Regions from separate parts of the Homo sapiens genome. Here region 1 is linked to region 2. The links come from fine-mapping of genetic effects on gene expression. Tissue or cell type: whole blood. Region 2 holds a variant in brackets; the other region holds the start of a gene. All regions are shown on one strand. Distances are between the middles of the regions.

Region 1 (11,064 bases), 32 kb after region 2:
CAATGAAGAAATGTGGCATCCTTGGGGGCAGGGATGAGAAGAGTGAGGTTATCTGGAAACTCCACTCTATGCGAGGATGTTGAGGGACATTACACTGTAAGGAAATACATTTAAGCTGAGATACAATATTGGTTTTCAAATGTTTGAAGGGCTTTCTTGTGGGAGGGACCAACTTATCATGTATTGATTTAGAAATAAGATATGGGACAAAGAATTTATAAGGTGGTGGCCAGGCGCGGTGACTCACACCTGTAATCCTAGCATTTTGGGAGGCAGAGGCGGGCAGATCACTTGAGGTCAGGGGTTCAAGACAAGCCTGGCCAACATGGTGAAACACTGTCTCTACTAAAAATACAAAATTAGCCGGGTGTGGTGGTGCACACATGCAATCCCAGCTACTCAGGAGGCTAAGGCACAAGAGTCGCTTGAACCCAGGAGGAGGAGGTCACAGTAAGCCGAGATCATGCCACTGCACTCCAGGCTGGGCGACGGGATGAGCTCCGTATTAAAAAACAAAACAAAACCAAAAAAAAAAGAAGTTATAAGGAGGCAGACTTTAGCTCTGTGTAAACAAAACCCTGCCAAGATTCCTTTGCCCTCTTTTACATCTTCTATAAAATGAGAACAATATCAGATGCTCTAATAATGACAGAGAGGTGCAGTAAGGAACAGATGGGGTAAATTCAGAAGTGGTCCTCGACTTTAGGTGCTCATTAAAATGATTTGGAGAGTTTTAAAATCCTGATGCTCTGGCAGCACCCACAATTAATTCATTCATAACCTCTGGAGGTGGGACTCAGGCACTGATAATTTTTAAAGTTCCCAGGAGATTCCATTGTATATCCATTGTGTAGTTCCACTGAGAACCATTGATCTAAAATAAGTATTAATTGCCATCTGGGTAGTTGTGGAAAAAGTAGGTTTGACTTAAAGCAGATCTGGCACCATTTTTTGAAGGGCTCATTCACCTAATAATTGGAGCTAAAGGTCACAGTAAAGCAACTCTGGAGTGAAATACAGAACACATAGCCACTCAATAGCATGAGGGACAGTGAAGGTGGCATAAGCGACATTTGTTTACTTGTAGGCACATGCTAAACAGTTCAGGATTGGCTAGCCTCAGACCTTTACCCAAGAAGATCCTGAATGGGGAGATGAGACACACCCACTGATGGAGTGAATGTTTCTGGACTTTACGGAGGTCCGGAGAAAATCACTCAGAATACCTCTGTATCATCTATGGGCTGATTTCACTGGATATGATTTTATTAGCCACCATTTGATCATGGGCCTGTAATTGATTAAATAAATGTATATACCCATTAAATAATTACAGCTTGGAAAGTGATTCTTTTTTACTAAGAATCATTTGTGATCTTTTTACTAAGATCGTTTGTGTAATGATCGAATTAGGGTAATTAGCAAATCCATCCTTTTGTTTGTTTGTTTGTTTGTTTTTGGATGGAGTCTCACTCTGTTGCCAGGCTGGAGTGCAGTGGTGCGATCTCAGCTCACTGTAACCTCCAGCTCCCGGGTTCAAGCAATTCTCCTGCCTCAGCCTCCCGAGTAGCTGGGACTGCAGGCGCGTGCCACCATGCCCAGCTAATTTTTGTATTTTTAGTAGAGACAGGGTTTCACCATGTTGGCCAGGATGGTCTCTTGACCTAGTGATCTCCCCACCTCGGCCTCCTGAAGTGTTGGGATTATAGGCGTGAGCCACTGCACCCAGCCTTTCACTAAGTTAAAAAAAATTAAAACTGACACGAGAATGGTACATATTTGTGGGGTACAATGTGATGTTTTGATACGTGCACACATTGTGTAAGGATCAAATTAGGGTAATTACCAAATCCATCTCAAACATTTCTTTGTGGTGAGAACATTGTAAGTTCTCTCTTCTACCTATGTTGAAATATACATTATTCAAAAAATAAGAGGTGCTGGTGAGGTTGTGGATAAAAGGGAAGGCTTATATACACTGTTGGTGGGAGTGTAAATTAGTTCAACCATTTTGGAAAGCAGTGTGATGATTCCTGAAAGAGCTAAAAACAGAATTAACATTTCACCCAGCAATCTCATTACTGGGTATATATAGGAATATAAATTGCTCTGCCATAACGACACATGCACTCATATGTTCATTGCAGCACTATTCTCAATAGCAGAGGCATGGAATCAACCTAAATGCCCATCAGTGGCAGACTGGATAAGGAAAATATGGTATATATACACCATGGAATACTACGGTATACACCATGGAATACTATGCAGCCATAAAAAAGAACGAGATCATGTCTTTTGCAGGAACATGGATGGAGCTGGAGGCTATTATTCTAAGTGAAGTAACACAGGAACAGAAAACAAAATTCTGCATGTTTTCACTTATAAGTGGGAGCTGAATGATGAGAACACATGGACACATAGAGGGGAGCAATAGATACTGGGACCTAAAAAAAAAGTTAAACTCTACTATGCGATAGAATACCAGAACTTATCCCTCCCATCTGACTTTAACTGTGTACTGGTTGACCAATCTCTCACCATCCTCCCTCCCTGCTCCCCTTGGAGAGTGATTCTCTTATTTTTTTCATTTTTATTTTTGAGAGACAGGGTCTCACTTTATTGCCCAGGCTGGAGTGCAGTGGTGCGATCGTAGCTCACTGCAGCCTTGACCTCCTGGGCTCAAGCGATACTCCATCTCAGCTTCCTGAGTAGCTGAGATTGCGGGCATGCACTACCATGCTTGGCTAATTTTTTAATTTTTGTAGAAACTGGGTCTTGCTATGTTGCCCTGGCTGGTCTTGAACTCCTGGACTCAAGTGATCCTCCCACCTCAGCCTCCCAAAGTGCTAGGATTACAGGTGTGAGTCACCACGCCCATCTGAGAGTGATTCTTAATCACAGGCCACAGGATACTGCTCTTGCCCATTCCTAGTTTGTTCCAGCTGTATCAGACTGCTGGCTGAGCTGTCCTGCTTGTGGTGCTGAGCCAGACAAAGGCTGGTTGGGGATGTGTAATAAGGACACTGCGTAGCGAAGCAGCCCCAGAGACATTCAGGCAGCCAGAGATGGTGCACAAAGCATAGATAAACAGATAAATGCAAGGGTCTTTACTCATCCCTCCCTGGCCCTCCCCATGGCTCTGACTCTCCAAGAAAATAAATCAAGCTAATGCCCCAAACCCAGCTGTGTAAGTCCATAATGGGAGACAGAGGATCAAACAGCAGCACCTGCCAAGAAGATGATGCATTCTCTATGAATCAGCCCAGTGACTCAGCATCTGATAAAGCTTATTTGGAGTGTTTAGGGCAAGGGAAGGGGTGGTCCTGTTCTGCTTTGTGTGCTCAGGCCCTCCGGCATTGGCTGGTCCAAGGCTCCCCACTGGCATTGGCTAGTCCAGGGCTGGGCCAAGGGTTTCAAGAGAGATGAGGTCCAGAATGTCAAAGGGCTGGGGAAAAGTCTGCAAACCACGGCAAGGCAAGGAGCTGCAAGCCTGGAGGTCACTGGGAAAAGCAGACTACGTTGCCTTCAAATATCAGAAGGGGCACTATGGGAGAGATAGGCTGGATTTTCTCTGTGTGGCTCCAGAGGGCAGAACTGGGCTCCGGATTGGCCCATACACGAGCCAGACTGTGACTCAACCAAAGAAGGCCCTAACTTTATCAACAGCTTTACTAGACAAATGGTTGCATGGCAGGTAGTGAGCTCCCTGTTATTGGTGGCATTCAAACATGGGCAGGATGACCACCGGGTGCAGATGCTGGGGATGGGGTAGGAATCAAGCAGTGTGTGAGTCCTGAACCAATCAATGTCTATGATCTGCTTAGAATATGAAACATCTGGTGATGCATTTATGGCGCTTTCAAAATTTACACTTTTCTTTCCTCAAAGTTTGACCTTCTGAACCTTGTTTGCTTAGTAGTGGGAATAATCAAGTAATTATTCCCAAGGGATCACAGTCATGACTGTGAATCTGTGAATCATGCTATTTTCTCCCAAGTCCTTTCTTCCTCTCTTCCCTTCCCCTAATTCAGCTGGCTAAGGCGGATCTCACTGACTGACCTCCAAAGTCTAATTTTTAAAAATATAACTAGATTTATGCCTTCTGTTCCGGATGCTGAGGGAGCTACAGAACAGAAAAGTTACAAGGAGCGAGCTCAAAAACAATTCTTCTAACCTCAGGTATTGATAAGGAGCAGGCACTGATAAGGAGCAGGCACTGTCCACAGAAAATGTAGCTGTTACTGATAATTAGACATTTTTTTTTTAAGAAAAATAAAGTGTAGCCTCTTCTGGGACATTTTTTTCTTCTTCTGGGTTAATGGCCTTCTAATACTTGGCTTGGCTCTAGGTTAGGTTGCAGGGAGCCGTGGAGATGATCCATTCCCGATTCCTCATCGTCCAGATGGAAGAAACTGAGGCCCAAGGGCAAAGTGATTAGTCCGAGGTCACCCAGTGTCTAGGGGCACACCTAGGACTGTAATCAGACTTTCATGGACCTGGTCTGGGTTCTCCCACTTAGTCATGGGCCTTGAAGATTCCCCGAGGCTGCCTCCTGAAAAGGACTGGGGTCCTAGTGGCCCCTGGACGTTGGGCAAGCAAGGGACTGGGCCTCCATGTTGTGCCTCCATAGTCCTGATCCTGAACTGGAAAACTCAGCCCCTGACCACGCAGCTCTCCTTTAAGCCCCTTTGTTTCACATGGTTTTCAAAGTCTGCCACCCACAGTGGGGCTGCCTGTACCCGCCCTGTCCACCCATTGCCCCAGCTGTCAGCCCCTTGACTTCTCTCCTGGGGCTTAAACATCCCTGGCTCCAAAATGGGCAGCTCACTTTCTTCCCCAAGAAGTAGCTGCACCTCCAGGGTTCCTAGATTTGCCCCTCCTTGCCAGGGGGAGGGGTGGCTGCGACAGGAGATTCTCCCTGCTCTCAGCAGAAGGAACTCCAGCAGTTGGAGACCAGCAAACCCCTCTGGACACAGATCTGATTTCCTAACTGGGAAGGCTCAGGGCAAAATAAAAATTCAGGTCCACTGGTTCAAAAACTATGAAGAATTTCAAGACCGTCACAGTAGCCCATTAAACCAAACGTGGATCTGCAAGGGTCCCACAGCCATGAAGCCCACCCTGCTTGGTTGGGTTCCAAAAAGATGGGGACAGTGATTGCTTAAGCTCTGTGGATCAAGGACCCCGGAGAGGCCTTCTGGCTCTCCACATATCTGCTCTGATCACTCCTAAACACAATTCTGTTTCCTCCAGGCCTGGCGGGTCAGTCCAGGGACCCCCATCAGTGTGATGTTTCCAGGAGTAGGCGTTTCAATACTTCCTGTGCTCTCTTCTCCAGCACAAGGCCCCTCTCCATCCCACCCTCATTATGTCTGACTCTTTACTATTTAAATGGGTCAAGAGAAGTGGCGCTTGTGTAATGTGAAGGTTAAGGTCAGTAGGGCCAGGGAACTGTGAGATTGTGTCTTGGACTGGGACAGACAGCCGGGCTAACCGCGTGAGAGGGGCTCCCAGATGGGCACGCGAGTTCAGGCTCTTCCCTACTGGAAGCGCCGAGCGGCCGCACCTCAGGGTCTCTCCTGGAGCCAGCACAGCTATTCGTGGTGATGATGCGCCCCCCGGCGCCCCCAGCCCGGTGCTGCACCGGCCCCCACCTCCCGGCTTCCAGAAAGCTCCCCTTGCTTTCCGCGGCATTCTTTGGGCGTGAGTCATGCAGGTTTGCAGCCAGCCCCAAAGGGGGTGTGTGCGCGAGCAGAGCGCTATAAATACGGCGCCTCCCAGTGCCCACAACGCGGCGTCGCCAGGAGGAGCGCGCGGGCACAGGGTGCCGCTGACCGGTGAGATGTCCCCGTCTTCCCTACCCTTGAGCAGAGCCACACCAGGACGGATGGGCGGGCAGGGGATGGCAGCCAGGCAGAGAGGGATGACACAGCTCGCAGTCACAACCCCTGCGCTTTCGACGGAGCCCAGGAAGCCAGGGAGGGGAGGTGGCCGGAGCCCCATCACCAGGCAGCTGAGCCAGGGGCCCCGGCGCAACCGCCGCCTGAGAGCACGAGCTCCAACCACAATTCTGTGGTGGGGGGGTAAATAGAACAGATATAATGATCATCCTTTCGCAAAGATGGGGAAACTGAGACCTGGAGACCTGCCGCGTTGCGGGAGACCCAGGCTAGCAGGTGACAGAGCTGGCCTGCACCGAGCTCCTTCCTGCAGCATATCCTCTGCGAAGATGCGGATCTCTCAGTTGTGGCTTTCGGCTTGCATGCATGAGTCATCTAGTTTTCTTCTAAATTCTCTAGCTCTCTGGACACTGTTGCCTGTAAGTATGAGGCTGCGGATTTCAGTATATGCTGCAACCACCGAAATCCGACTTTTTCTGCCTCCTAATGCATCTGAGGTGCATCAGAGAAAAGTCACACAAGATCCACCAGGCCTCAGACCTCTGATTCCACAGTCTCATTTTACAGATGATAATCTGAGGCCTGGAGAGGTTTAGGACTGGTGCCAACACTAAACAGCAAATAAGTATCAGAATTGGGATTCGAGCCAAAGCCTCTTGACCTTCCAGAATTTCTGGACCTAGTTAAAAAAAATATGATTTTTATTATTATTTTTTAAACGGAGAGGTTAGGAATTTAAAGGAAAGTACAGATACTATATAAAAAAAGATGCCCATGAAAATGTTAAGTTATAATAATAGTGGAGCATTGGGCACAACTGAAATGGCCAATCTTGTGAGAATGGTAAAATAAACTTAGGTCCGTGAGTAAGTGGAGTATTACATAGCCATAAAAGTATGCCCTTAAAGAATATTTGAAGATGGTGAATGTGAAGAATCTTGTATAAACTGCATGGAAGACAGAAGGAAATATACCACAGTGCTAACCTTTGCCTCTGGGTGATATGAATTACCGGTGATTATTTTTCTTATTTTCCTTTTGGTTTAGTTTTCTCCATTTGAAGAAGCAGATAGGAGCCGGGGCTTTGGGATTGAAACCCTCACCATCTGTGTGCCCTCTTCACTGTCTTCCCATCCTCCCCACGGCTCCCTGTTCACAGTCATTGATTTTCTTTCTTTCTTTTCTCTCTTTTTTTTTTTTTTTCCTGAGACCAAGTCTCACTCTGTTGCCCAGGCTGGAGTAGAGTAGCGCCATCTCGGCTCACTGCAACCTCCGCCATCCGGGTTCAAGCAGTTCTCATGCCTCAGCCTCTGAGTAGCTGGGACTACAGGCGCATGCTGCTACATCCGGCTAATTTTTGTATTTTTAGTAGAGACATGGTTTCACCACCTTGGCCAGGCTGGTCTCGAACTCCTGATCTCAAGTAATCCGCCTGTCTTGGCCTCCCAAAGTGCTGGGGTGACAGGTGTGAATCAATGCGCCCTGCCAGGTCATTGATTTTCTTAAGCCTCCAGCCCTGCCCTGCTTGGAAACGTTTTGGGAAGCTGCTCAGTTCAAAGTTCCCAGGAGGGTGTGCCTGGAGGGGAGTTGCTCCCAAAGTCTGCCTGCTCCCCCCGCCCCCCCTGCCCCCCACCCCCCGCCATCTTCTCCTCCTCCTCTTCCCCTGAGCAGCCCCTTTGTCCACAGAACCGGCCTTTTCTGGTAGAAGGAGCAAGGCCAAGTGGTTTAAGCCTTCTTAGGGAGAATGAGGCTGTGTGGTAGTGCTGGGGACTCGAGGGCCTTGGCCTTGGCATGGCTCTTCCACCCAGGGCAGCTGGCAGCCAGGCTCCCAGGAGGCAGAGGAGATGAGGGGGGAGGTGAGTCCGAGCAAAGGAAAGGAGGTCGGCTGTGCAGTCACGGTTCTAGAACATTCCTTGGATCAGCAGCATCCATATCACCTGCAGACTGGCTGGAAAAGCAGTCTCAGAACCAACATTATAACCAGCCCTGCAGTGATTCATAAGTACTTTAAAAAGTGGTCAATCATTTCAGCAAAGCAGAGCCACACAGTCCGGGGGACCACAGGTGGCCTCTGTGTGCTTGTCTCGGTTTTCCTGCCCCTCTCCAGACATGTTGATTAGACACTGCCAATGCCCAGCCTCAGACCTCAGTCTAATTTGGAAGTAGTCAGAATTTACTATGATTACATAAGACCCTCGTGTTTACAGAACACATTCCCCTCTCTGAGGTCTGGATTAGATCCATTTTACAGATGAAGAAACTGAGGCTCAGATATTTAAGTGACTTGGAATCAAGGAAAGAATACTGGACTAGGGGTCGGGAGGGCTGGGCTCTCATCCCAGGGTTACCATGAGCATGCTGTGGACTCTAGGGAGTCCCATGCCCTCTCTGGGCTTCAGCCTCACCGCTAGGGTAGAGAGGTTGGGTGAGAGAACGACCTCCTTCCCAGGTCTGAGCTGGATGGTTCACCAGGGACCCCAGGCTCCCTGGAGCAGACTCTGTGCCCGCTGCTGAGTCTGGAATTCCTTTCCTGTATCTTGCCTTTGGCTGCCCCATTCTTCATGGCCCAGCACCCTGTCTTCTGGTCAGAACCTAGTTCTGAATGGGTTTTTCCAGAAGTTGTTGCTTTCAGGGGCCCCTGGCAGAGAGGTGTTTCTGGCTGGCTTTGTCTCTCTGGCATGACAAAGGCTCTGTTCCTGCTGGAGGCATTTCAGGGCTCAGTGGGCAGCTGGGGCAGAGCCCGTGAGACCACAGCCTTCCTGGTGAGCCCGGTCTCCGCCCCCTACCCCATCTCTGGGGAAGGCGCTGACCCCATCTCTTCTCCCACGCTGCTCCCTGGCTCTTTGCGCCTGATTACTTCTCATGAGAGGCACTCCTTGTTAATGTGCTACTGAGTGTCCAGATGGGCCTGCTGGGCTGAGCGGGCTTTGGATGTGAACCATTTCAGGAAGGGGAACCCCATCGTCCTGTTGGTTCTGTGATGGCAAATGGGTGAGCTCAGATAAGCAGTTCTTGGGAGGGGCATGGTGGGGGTGGAGTGCAGGGGGAGGGGTTTCTGTTTTATGCAACAGCCTCAGCTTCTGGGAAAGGGTCCATTGTGTAAGACCGGGGCTATGGCCTGTGCCCCGTGGCTCAGGGCAGCCAGCCCAGTGGTGGCAGGAACACTGGCAGGGCAGCCTGCTGTCGGCTTAGAGGGGATGGGCAGTGTGGAGGGCCTGGCAGAGCAAGAGGACTCATCCTTCCAAAGGGACTTTCTCTGGGAAGCCTGCTCCTCGGGCCACTGCGAACCCTCTCTACTCTCCGAAGGGAATTGTCCTTCCTGGCTTCCACTACTTCCACCCCTGAATGCACAGGCAGCCCGGCCCAAGTCTCCCACTAGGGATGCAGATGGATTCGGTGTGAAGGGCTGGCTGCTGTTGCCTCCGGCTCTTGAAAGTCAAGTTCAGGTGGTGCTGAGACTCCCTGGGGGCTGCAGCGCTGTGGTGAATGGGGAGCGTCTGCTGGGGTGAAGGTTTAGGTGCACATTGCAGAGGACGTGGCTGGTCTCTGGGATGCAGTCCCTCTGTGGAGGTGGCATGGGGAGGGACGGATGCATGACCTAAGGGGGGTATTTTCAGTGTCTGACATGATCGATACCACTCTGGACAAGGAGGCCAGGATGCAGAAAGCCTGTGTGCCTCGCTGATTGTCGGGGAGGATGTGGCTTGGACAAGAGCCTGGTTCCTCCGATGCCAGGGTTCTTGTTTCTTCCACTCAACATTGCTGTCCTGCAGTCCCTCCCTCCCTGCACCTCCTGCCTTCGCTTTCATTCGAGGTGTCCATGGCAAGTCTGGTCATTTCCCCCCATTTCCTCAGGAATAAAAGTGCAGCAGTGCCTGCTGTGGGGACAGCTGAGGGCAGTGAGGCCCTGGGGAGCTGCTGCAGGCAGCAGGTGGGCGGGACGCCAGCAGGCTGTCTAGCTGTTCCCATGATGGTCTCCTGTTCTCTGCAGAGGCGTGCAAAGACTCCAGAATTGGAGGCATGATGAAGACTCTGCTGCTGTTTGTGGGGCTGCTGCTGACCTGGGAGAGTGGGCAGGTCCTGGGGGACCAGACGGTCTCAGACAATGAGCTCCAGGGTGAGTAGACCAAGCATGATGTTCCTCTGGCCACAGGGTGATGAGGTCAGAGGGCAGGGTAGCTAATTCTGCTCAGTGCCTCTCTATCAGGCCCCAGTGTTACAGACCGTTTTTATCTTGTGCACTGGGTCTGGGTGCCTGTGTCTGGGCCCACTCTGAGCCTCAGCTCCGAGGCCCCTGGTTCAGGCTCTGCGTGCATCAGACTGCCGGCATTTGCAGGCATTTCCCAAGCACTTTCGGCTGTTGCATTTCATTCAGCTCTTCCCCTCCCAGGCCCCTTAGCCCAGCTCCCAGGCCTCCTCCACGAAGCTGTGTCTGGACCACCGGAGCTCTTATCCCTCTCCCCTTTGGAGTGCCCAGAGCTTATCCCTCCTGTGAGCTGACGGTTTCTGCAGGATCATTGTTAAAAACCCAGATCAGACATGGGTGTGAGTCTGTTTCACCTCTTCTCAGCTGGGTGACTTTGGGCCACTATCTTGATCTCATGACACTCCCCCCACCCCCCATTTTATTGAGATATAATTAACAAATAAAAATTGTGTATATTTAAGGTATATGACGTGATGTTTTGAAATGCACATACATTGAAATGATGACCACTTTTTATGGTGGGACGGTGGGAAGACTTAAAATCTACTTTCTTAGCAAATTTCCAGTTATGATATGGTGTTATTAACTATAAGCACCACCTGTATGTTAGACCTCCAGAACATACTCCTCCTACCTGATGAACACTTTGACCCTTTATCATATCACACTTCCCATGTCTCCCTCTGCGAAGTGGGCACGGCGGGGGGCTGGAGCATTATGTAAACTGCACATGAAGTGTTTGGCGCAGTGCTTGGCATGGGATAAACACCAGTGAAGTAGCACTTAGGTGACACAGTGTTTCGCTGCATTTGTCACCAGTGCTATACCTTACTCATTTACTCATCTTCTTATTCCTGTCGCCTGGCACTGCATTGGAACAAAGAAATACACATATCTGTTTAAACTGAACTCTAGAAAGATTTGTGTCCAAAATAACAATATTTTATATTTTGA
Region 2 (10,040 bases):
GATCGGGGTGGGGCCTAGACATCGACATTCTTTAAAGCTCCAAGATGGCTGTAACATGGAGCTGAAACTGAGAAGCACTGACCTGGTCGTATCATCTCATTACACCAATGGGAAAGAAGGGGTCCCCAGAGGCAGGTGCCTTCCTTAAGGCCACAGATCTTGTCAGTTGCCAGTGTCTGCAGTTTGCATTAGGCATAGAGATCCCCTAGCCAGGAAGATGCTGGCTCTGGGCCCTGGGATACAGATGTCAAGTGTTTGTCTTTGCAGGGGAACTTTTGGTGCTGGATCCCTGATCAGACACCCCCCTGCAGCCCGGGGTGGGAAAGCCCCGGACTCACCCAGAGAGGCCAACACAGCCACGGCCACCAGGAGCAGGGCCAGGAAGAGGTAAAGAATCCGCACCGATGTGTGCAAAGATAGGTTCTTCTGGCAGCGGCTGCAGCGGGGCCCTGGCCGGCCTGTGGGGGACACAAGGAGGACAATGGCTTAGGCCAGGGGCCCAGGTTGGAGCTGAAGGGTCAGTTCCATGTTCCTGCTCTGGTCTGTCTCATCACATTCAAACCAGGCTCAGAAGGGGAGCTGTTCTCGACCCTCATTCTCTACCTGTCCTACCTCCTTTCTCTAGGTGCTGGTGCTTTCTGGAATGCAGGAGACCGAGTCAGGACTTCAAAGAACAGCCCCCAGCACTACCATCATCCTCTCTCCATGGTGTCTTCATTCGGCCCATGGGGAGGGGAAACACCTCTTCCCTCTCCATTGGTCCTACTGAGGACCCACAGGATGAGCAGCCAGCCTGAGGCCCCACTGAGTGACCAACTTGTCTGGGCTTGCCCAGGATCTTCTGGGTTTTAGCACTGAAAGTCTCCCATCACAGGAGCTCCTCAGCATGGTGCCAATCATCCTGGTTTGCTAAGATTGTCTGGGTTTTAAAACTGAAAGCCTGCCGGGTACAGTAGCTCATGCCTGTAATCCCAGCACTTGAGGAGGCTGAGGCAGGGGGATCACTTGAGCCCAGGAGTTTGAGGCCAGCCAAGGCAACATAGCAAGATCCCATCTCTATTTTAAAAAAGAAAAAAGAAAATGAAAAGCCCCACACCCTGGGAATCCCCTCAGTCCCTGGCAAACCAGAATGTTGGTTACCAGTCCCCAAACTTTTCAGGGAACCAGAAGTTCTCCTGGAAACCAAACAAATAGTCATGGTCCACCAGTTGAATTGTTGGCATGGAGGAAAGAGGGAACCAGATGGTCCTGAATACACAGACAGGTGGCCAACACCCAGTGGGAATGCAGTGATGGCCCAGCTGCGAATTCCTAAGGTGAACTCACCTTTAGCCACACATTCTGACTACTAGGACGTTTAAAAATCCTGATGCCCAGATCACACTCCAGGCCAAATAGGAATTTCCAAGGGTTGGTCTCATGCATCCATGGGTGATTGCAATGAAGAGCCAAGGTTGAGAACAACTGCTCTACTCTACACCAAAGTCACTGAGACCCCATTCCAAACAGCAGTTCAGGTGGCATGGGACACAATGAAGGGGACAGTTCCAGGCCAGCTAGAAGACAGGCCCCAGGGACAGGGTATGTAGCTCTGGGAGATGGCAGAAGTCCCTGATGGGTCTCGGGAGGACCCCAGGAGACAGGTGGCACTTGTGTCAAGCTTTGATTTCAGGCCAAGCACAGTGGCTCACACCTGTAACCCCAGCAATTTGGGAGGCTGAGGCGGGCAGATCACTTGAGGCCAGGAGTTTGAGACCAGCCTGGGCAACATAGCAAGACTCTTGTATCTACAAAAAATAAAAAAAATTATCCAGGCATGGTGGTGCGTGCCAACAGTCACAGCTACTTGGGAAGCTGAGGTGGAAGGATCACTCGAGCCCAGGAATTTGAGGCTGCAGTGATCTGTGGTTGCACCACTCATACTAGCCTGGACGACACAGCAAAACCATGTCTTTAAGAAAAAAAAACATTAAACTCCTTTGACTTCACTGGTACTGCACGCCCAGGGCCGTGAACTCTGCCCTTTCACCATCCAGGAAGCAGTGGGGAAAGGACACCCAGGCTTTTGAAACCACCTAAAGAGACAAATCTCTCACTGGCCTGGGGATGGAGACAGGGATCTCTCAGCCCAGAGCGGAGATCAGGGGCAGCCCCAGAGTCCTTACCCTTCTGGGTGCATGGGAAGGTCGGCATGTCCTCGTCGTCACCCGCCAGGTCCTCTTCTGTAACGCACAAGGCATCTCCATCGCCGCCGGCCGACCTCACTATAATGAAGCCAGTGCCGTCAGACCCAAAGCCATCCCAGGCCTCTCCAGCAGCCCCTTTTATTTACCTGTCCCCATATCCCATGCCCACCTCTACCCCTGAGCCAGCTCACTGAGCTCCAGGTGGCCTGATGTAAGCTGCAAAAAGGGAGCGGACATAAGAATCAAGTGGCTGAGGAGCTGGGATGTCCCACCCCTCTGGGTGAGGAGAGCTCCCCATTTTCCACACGCTGGGAAAGACACATGGGCCACCTCAGTGCCTGCTCTCTCTGGAGCTTGCTGAAACCCATGAAGGTGGAGTAAGGAGAAATAAGAGCTGGCTGCTTGCTCTGGCTTAGCGTCCTTCTATTCCCCAATACTTGGTCACCGAAGCAGAATTCCTCTTCTCCAGGGACAAGGCTGAATCTGGCCACAGCATAGTCCCCACCAAGACTCTGCCTCCAGCATAGCCAGGAGGAGGCCAGAGGGAGGAGGAGATGACAGGATGGGCGCAGATCCCTGCTTCACACAATCTCACCTAGGACCCATCAGGGTGTCAAAGGGCCTTGGGCGGAGCAGGTCTCCTTTCAGAGTTTGATTCGGTGCTTATTCTCTGGGACAATATGGTCCCTAACTAAAACCTAGATGATGTATCCCTCACTCAGAAGATTCCTCTAGTTCCCCAGACACCCTTCACCTCCCACTCCCTGTAAGTAAGACCTGGCCTTTTCTTCCCTTTCTCCTTCCTTCCATCCTTCCTTCCCTACTTTCCTCCCTCCTTTCCTTACCTCTTTCCTTCCCTTTCTCCTTTCCTTTCCTTTCCTTCATTCCTTCCTTCCTTTCCTTCCTTCCCTACTTTCCTCCCTCCTTTCCTTCTCTCTCCCTCCCTCCCTCCTTTCTCTCTTTCTCTCTCCTCCCTCTCCCTCTCTCTTTATCTCTTTCTTTGCCGTTTTGTTGGGTCCTTAAGGATTCCCTGCTTTCTTTCACCTTTAGCTATGCACTTAGCAGTATGTCTGTAGTTTATTTAATGTCTACATTTTATAGCCCGAGAATATTTTAAGCTGGTAATGCTAGAAGTAGAAGCTTCAAGTTTTCCTTTTTTCCTTTTTTTTTTCTTTTGAGACAAAGTCTCACTGTGTCGCCCAGGCTGGATTGCAGTGGTGCTATCTCGGCTCACTGCAAGCTCTGCCACCTGGGTTCACGCCATTCTCCTGCCTCAGCCTCCCGAGTAGCTGGGACTACAGGTGCCCGCCACCACGCCCGGCTAATTTTTTGTATTTTTAGTAGAAACGAGGTTTCACCATGTTAGCCAGGATGGTCTCCATCTCCTGACCGTGATCCACCCACCTTGGCCTCCCAAAGTGCTGGGATTACAGGCGTGAGCCACTGCGCCCTGCCTCCTTTTTGTTTTTAATGCAATAAAGTGCTGGGTTTTGCCTCAAGGCAATCTTCACAACATCTTATAAACTTTACAGTCCAGAGAGTCACATTTATAGACAAAAAGACTGAGGTTCAGGGAAGTGAAGAATGTTGCTTAGCAGCCCACAGAATAGAAGTGGTGAAGCCAAGATGTGAACTCAGAAATCTTTTCTACCATACCTACAACCACCTTGAGGTAATGAGCAAAGGTTCCACAAAGTGCTAAGAAACCTTGCTTCTGCAACTACAAGGTCAGCGGGTAGACAAGAAGAGGGTGGTACATGAATGAGCTGCGGAGCCTCGGGGGCTCCTGACCATGATTGATGGGCATCTTGAGCCGCATCCTAGACCTGTGAGTACCTGAGGCCCAAATGCCATGCCACGGCCATTGTGATCAACATAGGAGCTGAGATGCAGTTGGCAAGGCGCTGTTGGTAAGCAAAGGCAGCTCTGAATGGACTCAGTAGGGAGGGGACTGAGGGTGACCCCAAATTAAAAATGCCACCATCAAGACCACGAGTGCCCTCTGCTCGGCCTTCACGCATGGCTTAAACGTCACTTCCCCAGCAGTCTTTCTTGAGCTCTCAGACTAGCGTAAGGCCCTGTTGCCCACACCTCACATGCTCTGTGCTCTCCCTAGGAGAATGCTCCTCTCCTGTCCATGCGGCAGCTCTCTTCCCCAGCGCTTCAGTTCCAAGGGCAGGGACTATCTGTCATGTTCACTGCTTTATCCAACATCCCTAGCACAGTGGCCGGCACAGAGAGCCGGCACAGAGAAAGGCTCAACAAACACAATTTCAAATAAACCAATGAAGGATTTGGTATTAGGCTTCCCAGCAGTTCTATGCCTGCCTGTGGAGCTCTCTGGGGAGCTTTCAAGGGTCCACCCCCAGAGATTGAATTAATCTGGGGCGACAAAGGAGACCTGGGGTTTAGGACTTTGAAAGCGCTCTCACATCTGTTATCCCATTTGATCCCTACAACTAGTCTGAGAGACAGAGAGAGAACATTTTCTCCTGATTTGATAGGTGAGGAAACTAAACTTTGTGTATGTGTGCACATGTGTGTGAGGGTGTGTCCGATGCATGTGTGAGTATACATGCATGCCTGCGTGTGTGCCTGTGCTTGCACATGTGTGCACGTGCATTTTTGCCCATGAGTGTGCATGTGTGTGTACCTGTGTATGTGTGGTGTGAGGTTGTTAATGCCTGGCTCAAGTCATAGAGCTGGGCAGTGGCAAAGCTTCCGGAATCCTGGTTTTCCTCTCCACAATAGGAGATTCCAGGTAGGTTTGCTTTCCGGGGCAATAGTGTGTGTGTGCGGGGGGGGGGCGGGGGCGGTCAGGGGTGCGGGCAAGTGCTTTGGAGGGTAAAGCGGGAACAGCAAGGAAGCATGAGAAGTTTGTTTTCATGCATATCCTAAGAAGCACTTTCAGCTCTCCTTGGGCAGCTGTCCCATCGTCAATCTGCCAACAGTTTACAAGGAAGCCTGGCCTGGGCAGTCACCAGGATTATGATCTCTTTCCCATAAATGAATGGCTGGGGCAAGGCAGGGGAATTCCTTGGTACCTTCTGTTTCTGTCTGACCAAAACCTCACCCTAGTAGCCATGGCCTCTCACCTCCAGAGACCCCAGTCAGAACCACGTTGTGGGCTGTGGGCTGTATTCACCACTGCCCCGGGGCTACCGTGGGGAGGTATTCCTTCCAACCCTTAGAGCAGAGCTGCCTCCTTGGCCGGGTTCCTCGTTTCTCTCCATCCTTGATGAGCTCCTCTGCCCTCCCCCGTGACTGGGCCTCCTCCCTGTTCTGGCTCTAGGGCCCATTTCATCACTTCACTGTTTATAGCCTTTGCAGGGAATCTGGGATGACTTAAATCAAGCAAGGCTGACACCAGCCTTCAGCAAACACCCTCTCAAAAAACACAGAGCTTTGTTATAACCAGCTTTCCCAATGGACAGCCCCCCAGATTAGCAACTGTTAGCCAGTGGAAATTGCTAACGAGGCTTTCCAGTAACGCACCGAGTGACCCATGGGAAGGGAAGTGGCGGCTGCCAGCGAAGATCTTGGATCTCTCTAGACTAGGGGGACCACGGGTGTTTGGCCATCTTCCCTCCACTGACATCTCAGCTCCATAACTCACAGCCCTCCCCAATCCCCAAAGAGGTCTTCTCTCTCTAATCCCTTGGATTTCCTGTCTTCCAGCACTAAGCCCCGGACTGTGGGGACCCCTGACTCACCTATGTCTGGAATGCTGTAGTAACTCACCACTGTAGCCTCGTTCACTTAATGAGAACATAATCCAAAGCATTTGTGAGGCTCTTA[T/A]AAGCCGAGCCCTTTGCAAGCACAAGCTCATTATGTTCATGTTATACCAAGATTGTTCTGATCAGAATATGTATGGATGAATAAACAGTCACCAAGAATGAAAAAGCCCTGGCTGAGGCCCCAGAGTAGTGATTGATCAGAGGATGACTGATTAGGCAGGCATCCGTAGTGCCTCCTTGAACTAGGCCAAGCAGGGTTAATAGAGATGGGAAAAGAATTTCCTTCCCCTCTCCGTCTTCTATGCCTATTCTCCTGCCATTAAGGGCAAACTGACTTAGAGTTAGGTGCACCAGCTCTCCAAAGGGGTTTCAGGGATAGAGAACCACAGCCTGAGAGGGTGGGAAGGGAATTTGCAAATTCACCTCCATCATGTCACAAAGGCTCAGAGAGGTTAAGTGGCCTGGAAGCTGGTTAGTGGCTCCTAAATATCCAAGAATCTGAGGCAGAATCCAAACACGCATTTGAGTGTCTGCAGAGTTGCACATGCCCATCTCAGAAACGCCTCAGAACTGGGACAAGACCTTTCCATATAAGCCTGATATCTGTTGACAGGTCACGCTCCTAGCAGTTTGCTACATCCCTGTGGTCAGGAAAGCTCCCCTCAACTGCTTTCAGCACAGGGTTGATCACATAGTGGATGTTCCATAAAGATGTGTTTTCTGGCCCTCGGCGAAGGCCTATGTCTTCAGTTAACTGTTATCCTCTGCTATTTTAATCAGGAGCTCATGTGTATTTAAAAAATGAAGATTGATGACTTAAAATAGGGTTGGAATCTGGTTTATTCTTAGGATTCTCCATGGCTAGGGAGTGTTGGGGACGATGGATGCATTTGGAGTGCAAAGGCTTAATTTATATACCTTTCGAAATTTATAAAATTTTGCAGCGAAGGCGAAATTTATATACCAAGGGCTGGTGTTTGAACTGCAAAGGAATGAGCTGGTGGAGGACTGGGTAGGAGCAAAATGTTGGCTCTACTTCCCCTCCCCTTCGCAGAACAGAACAAGGGACATCATATTCTTCTCCTGAAGCTCCAAGGGTTCTTGTTTGGGGGGGTCGTGTTTTTCCATTGTTGTCCCAGTTAATTGCTTTTCAATACCACCTGTATGTAATATGTCTATAGCTCTCTAAAGTAAGGCGCTGGTTCTTGTCTGTGTCATGTATAAAGAAATGTAGGACTCTTGACATGCTGAAAATCGAGGAGTGCCTGAGTGTGAAGCATGCTGGGTGTCTGGAAGGGGTAATGAAATCATCATGTTATGATAGGCTCTAGGTGTCTAGAGAGAGACTCCGTTTATAGGAAGGCAGAAATAGCACTGGTTGCCTTCTGTCTCTCTTCTCTCTCTCTCTCTCTCTCTCTCTCCCCTTCTTTTCTTCATTTTGTGGATTCCAGGAGCAAGGTTATTTTGGCAGGAGCGGATGGGCTTGGAAGAGGACACTGGAGAAGATAAGGTGATGCTGGGACCTAAAAACCTATGGGAAAACTCCTCTCTGGGAACAAACTTGGGACAGCATGGGAATCATGAAAGAACGAACATCTAAGACTCCATGAGCCAGTTTCTGCCTGCTCTGATCCCAAGGCCCCAAGGGACCACAGCTGCTATGAGGGAGGGCCATGGTCCCTGTCATAAAGAAGCCAGCCCCATGGATTTCCTAGTGAAAGGCACAGCCAGGCCCCAATCTTCTTGCAGTGATTACTACCCAAATCGCAGGCAAGGTGCTTAGAAAAAAAAGTTAAATAGCCTGGGAAGGCCAAGGCCAAGGCCAAGGCTGCAAACCCAGACCCATAAAATAGTGGTGACCACTAGAAATTTGAAAGGGCCTCTCTTCCTGTCATCCCTTAGGTCACAATATCCATCTCAAACTCCAGAAAGGACAGCCACAAGAGGAGAAATTCCTTTTTTTTTTTTAAGTCTGCTCTCACAGAGCCACGTAGCAAGTTTGATGGAGGGTGCATGCCTTGGCACATTGCTAAGCACGGCCACTGACTCCACTGGGGTTGAGCTTGGTTCAGCTCTCCCTTTGGGGGTAGAAAATAGCCCGGACCTGTTAACCAACTGCTAACTCAACTGTGGTCACCAATGCCGGCTTTCTTTTGGTTGACCAAAAATGTGTCCTTGGTTCCCTCTTTCGCCTTTCTGGGACTGCATTCTTCCATCTGAGTCAACAAGGGGGAGAGATTCGAGGAACTGAATAAAAGGTCTTTCTTTGGGCACTTCAAGGAACATATTTTGATAATTATCTTCTGCAGGGTTCACAGAGTGGGTTTTCAAAACAGCCAATTGGATCGGTAAAAATAAAGATTTCAGAGTCTTCTCTGGAGCCAATGCTATATTTAAAGTGCAGAATAGCTATTAGTTTAAGGTTGGAGAACGCTATAAGTAAGGTTGCAAAATTGTTTTCATTAGAGCCCTTCCGCCACTACCCCCTCTCCACAGGCTTCCTTTGTGGGTTTGTCTGTAATCGGTTGGGAATCCGCCTGCCCGCTCAGGTCTCAAGACACAGGTCCTTTCCCTTCAAATCTTCTTGCTCAACAAGTTGTCCTTTTCTGCTTCCGTGGCTCTGCCAGTTTCTCTCCTCCAGCACTCGCCCCTTTTTTGGTCCCCATCCTCAAGCTCCTGCATCCCTAAAGCCACATCTGCTGCTCTGAGACAGGCTTCCCTCCCGGTTCCTGCTACCTCCACCTGAATCCCTTTGGCTGCCTCCCACCCTGTTCTTGGTAACCACAGAGGTTGTGGGTAAATCCCTGCTTTATCCTAAATCCCCTTTATCCTAAACAACTTTCTTGCCCTCAACTTTTCTAACTTGGACCCTATTCCAGGTGGTGCAATTCTTCATTAGATGAGCACGGCCCACTCTGCACAGACATTCAGCATCCTGGCCTTGCCCGCTAAAGGCCAATAGCAATCCCTGGTCATTGTGACAACCCCGAATGCCCACCCATTTCTAAATACCTGCTCGCAGGCTGGTGCTGCCTCTAGTTGAGACAAGAACCTAGGCTACTCACTCAATGCAACAGACTCCCCCCATTACTTACACACTGATCTCCTCTCTGTCCACAGCACCAACCCCCCCGACTCCCCTGAACCCCATGAATTCAGAGGGATGGGAGGGGTGGGAATCACTGGCTTTCTTTTCTTTTCTTTTTTTGTTTCTTTTTATAGACAAGGTCTTGCTCTATTGGCCAGGCTGGAGTGCTGTGGTGCGATCATGGCTCAGTGCCGCCTAGACCTCCCGGGTTCAAACGATCCTCCCACCTCAGCCTCCTAAGTAGCTGAGGCTACAGGTGTGTGCCATCACACCCAGCTAATCTTGCTTATTTTTTGTAGAGACAAGATCTCACTATGTTGCCCAGGCTGGTCTCAAATTCCTGGCCTGAAGTGATCCTCCTCCCTGGGTCTCCCAAAGTGCTGGGATTACTGGCATGAGCCACCATGCCTGGCCAGGAATCACCAGTTCTCTTGATCCCCGTTGTCACCCCTGATCCTGCAAATCCTACCCTGTCTCGCATGGGCACCCCACTTCCCTCCTCTGAGTTTCATGTTCCTTATGCGTAAATGGTGGGGAGATCGTCCGCTTCAATGAGCTGCTGTGAAAATCCAATGAGACGTATATGAAAAGTACCTGGTACATCGTAAATGCTTAATAAATAGTAGTAGCAGCCACTTTTATTAGGATTATTTTTCTATCCTATTCCAATTAATGCTGCCATTTATTGCCATCTCCCAACCCCCATCACTCCCAGGACCAATTTCCAACTTACAAGAAATCAGTGTTTCAAAACATATCCTATGGGACACTAGTCCCAAATTATTCTTTGTGAAAAAGGATTATTTGATCAAGTAAGTGTGGAAAACATGGCATACTCTATCGCCATCTTAGAGATTCACATTCACATAGTAAGCATTTTGAAAAGTCCTGCCAAAAAAAATAATAAGCCCATTTAAATCTGTGTTTAACTCCACGTTTCTCAGACTTATTTGGTCATGGAACTTCCTGCAGATCTTGAAAAATAAATGTATCTTTTAATTCTGGGACCTATGTTCAGAGGCAGAGGGA

The links.
Region 1: it holds the start of CLU, and the variant in region 2 is fine-mapped to the expression of CLU in whole blood (TOPMed, PIP 0.94).

Annotation. Positions count from the first base shown.
Region 1 is chr8:27,609,431-27,620,494 of GRCh38, reverse strand. CLU (clusterin) reads left to right here and starts at 5,795. Exons shown (of 9, transcript NM_001831.4): 1 at 5,795-5,840; 2 at 9,895-10,020. The coding sequence starts at 9,924. It overlaps MIR6843 (microRNA 6843), which reads left to right and starts at 9,744; the gene lies at 9,744-9,894. RefSeq lists enhancers at 3,160-3,916, 4,207-4,707, 5,664-6,163, 9,346-10,053, 10,760-11,064 and silencers at 5,552-5,641, 7,197-7,382.
Region 2 is chr8:27,641,926-27,651,965 of GRCh38, reverse strand. SCARA3 (scavenger receptor class A member 3) reads right to left here. Exons shown (of 6, transcript NM_016240.3): 2 at 2,166-2,264; 3 at 339-458. Among named protein-coding and RNA genes, the nearest start is that of SCARA3, 13 kb to the right of the region's middle. RefSeq lists an enhancer at 403-903. The variant T/A (reference allele first, on the strand shown) is at 5,985.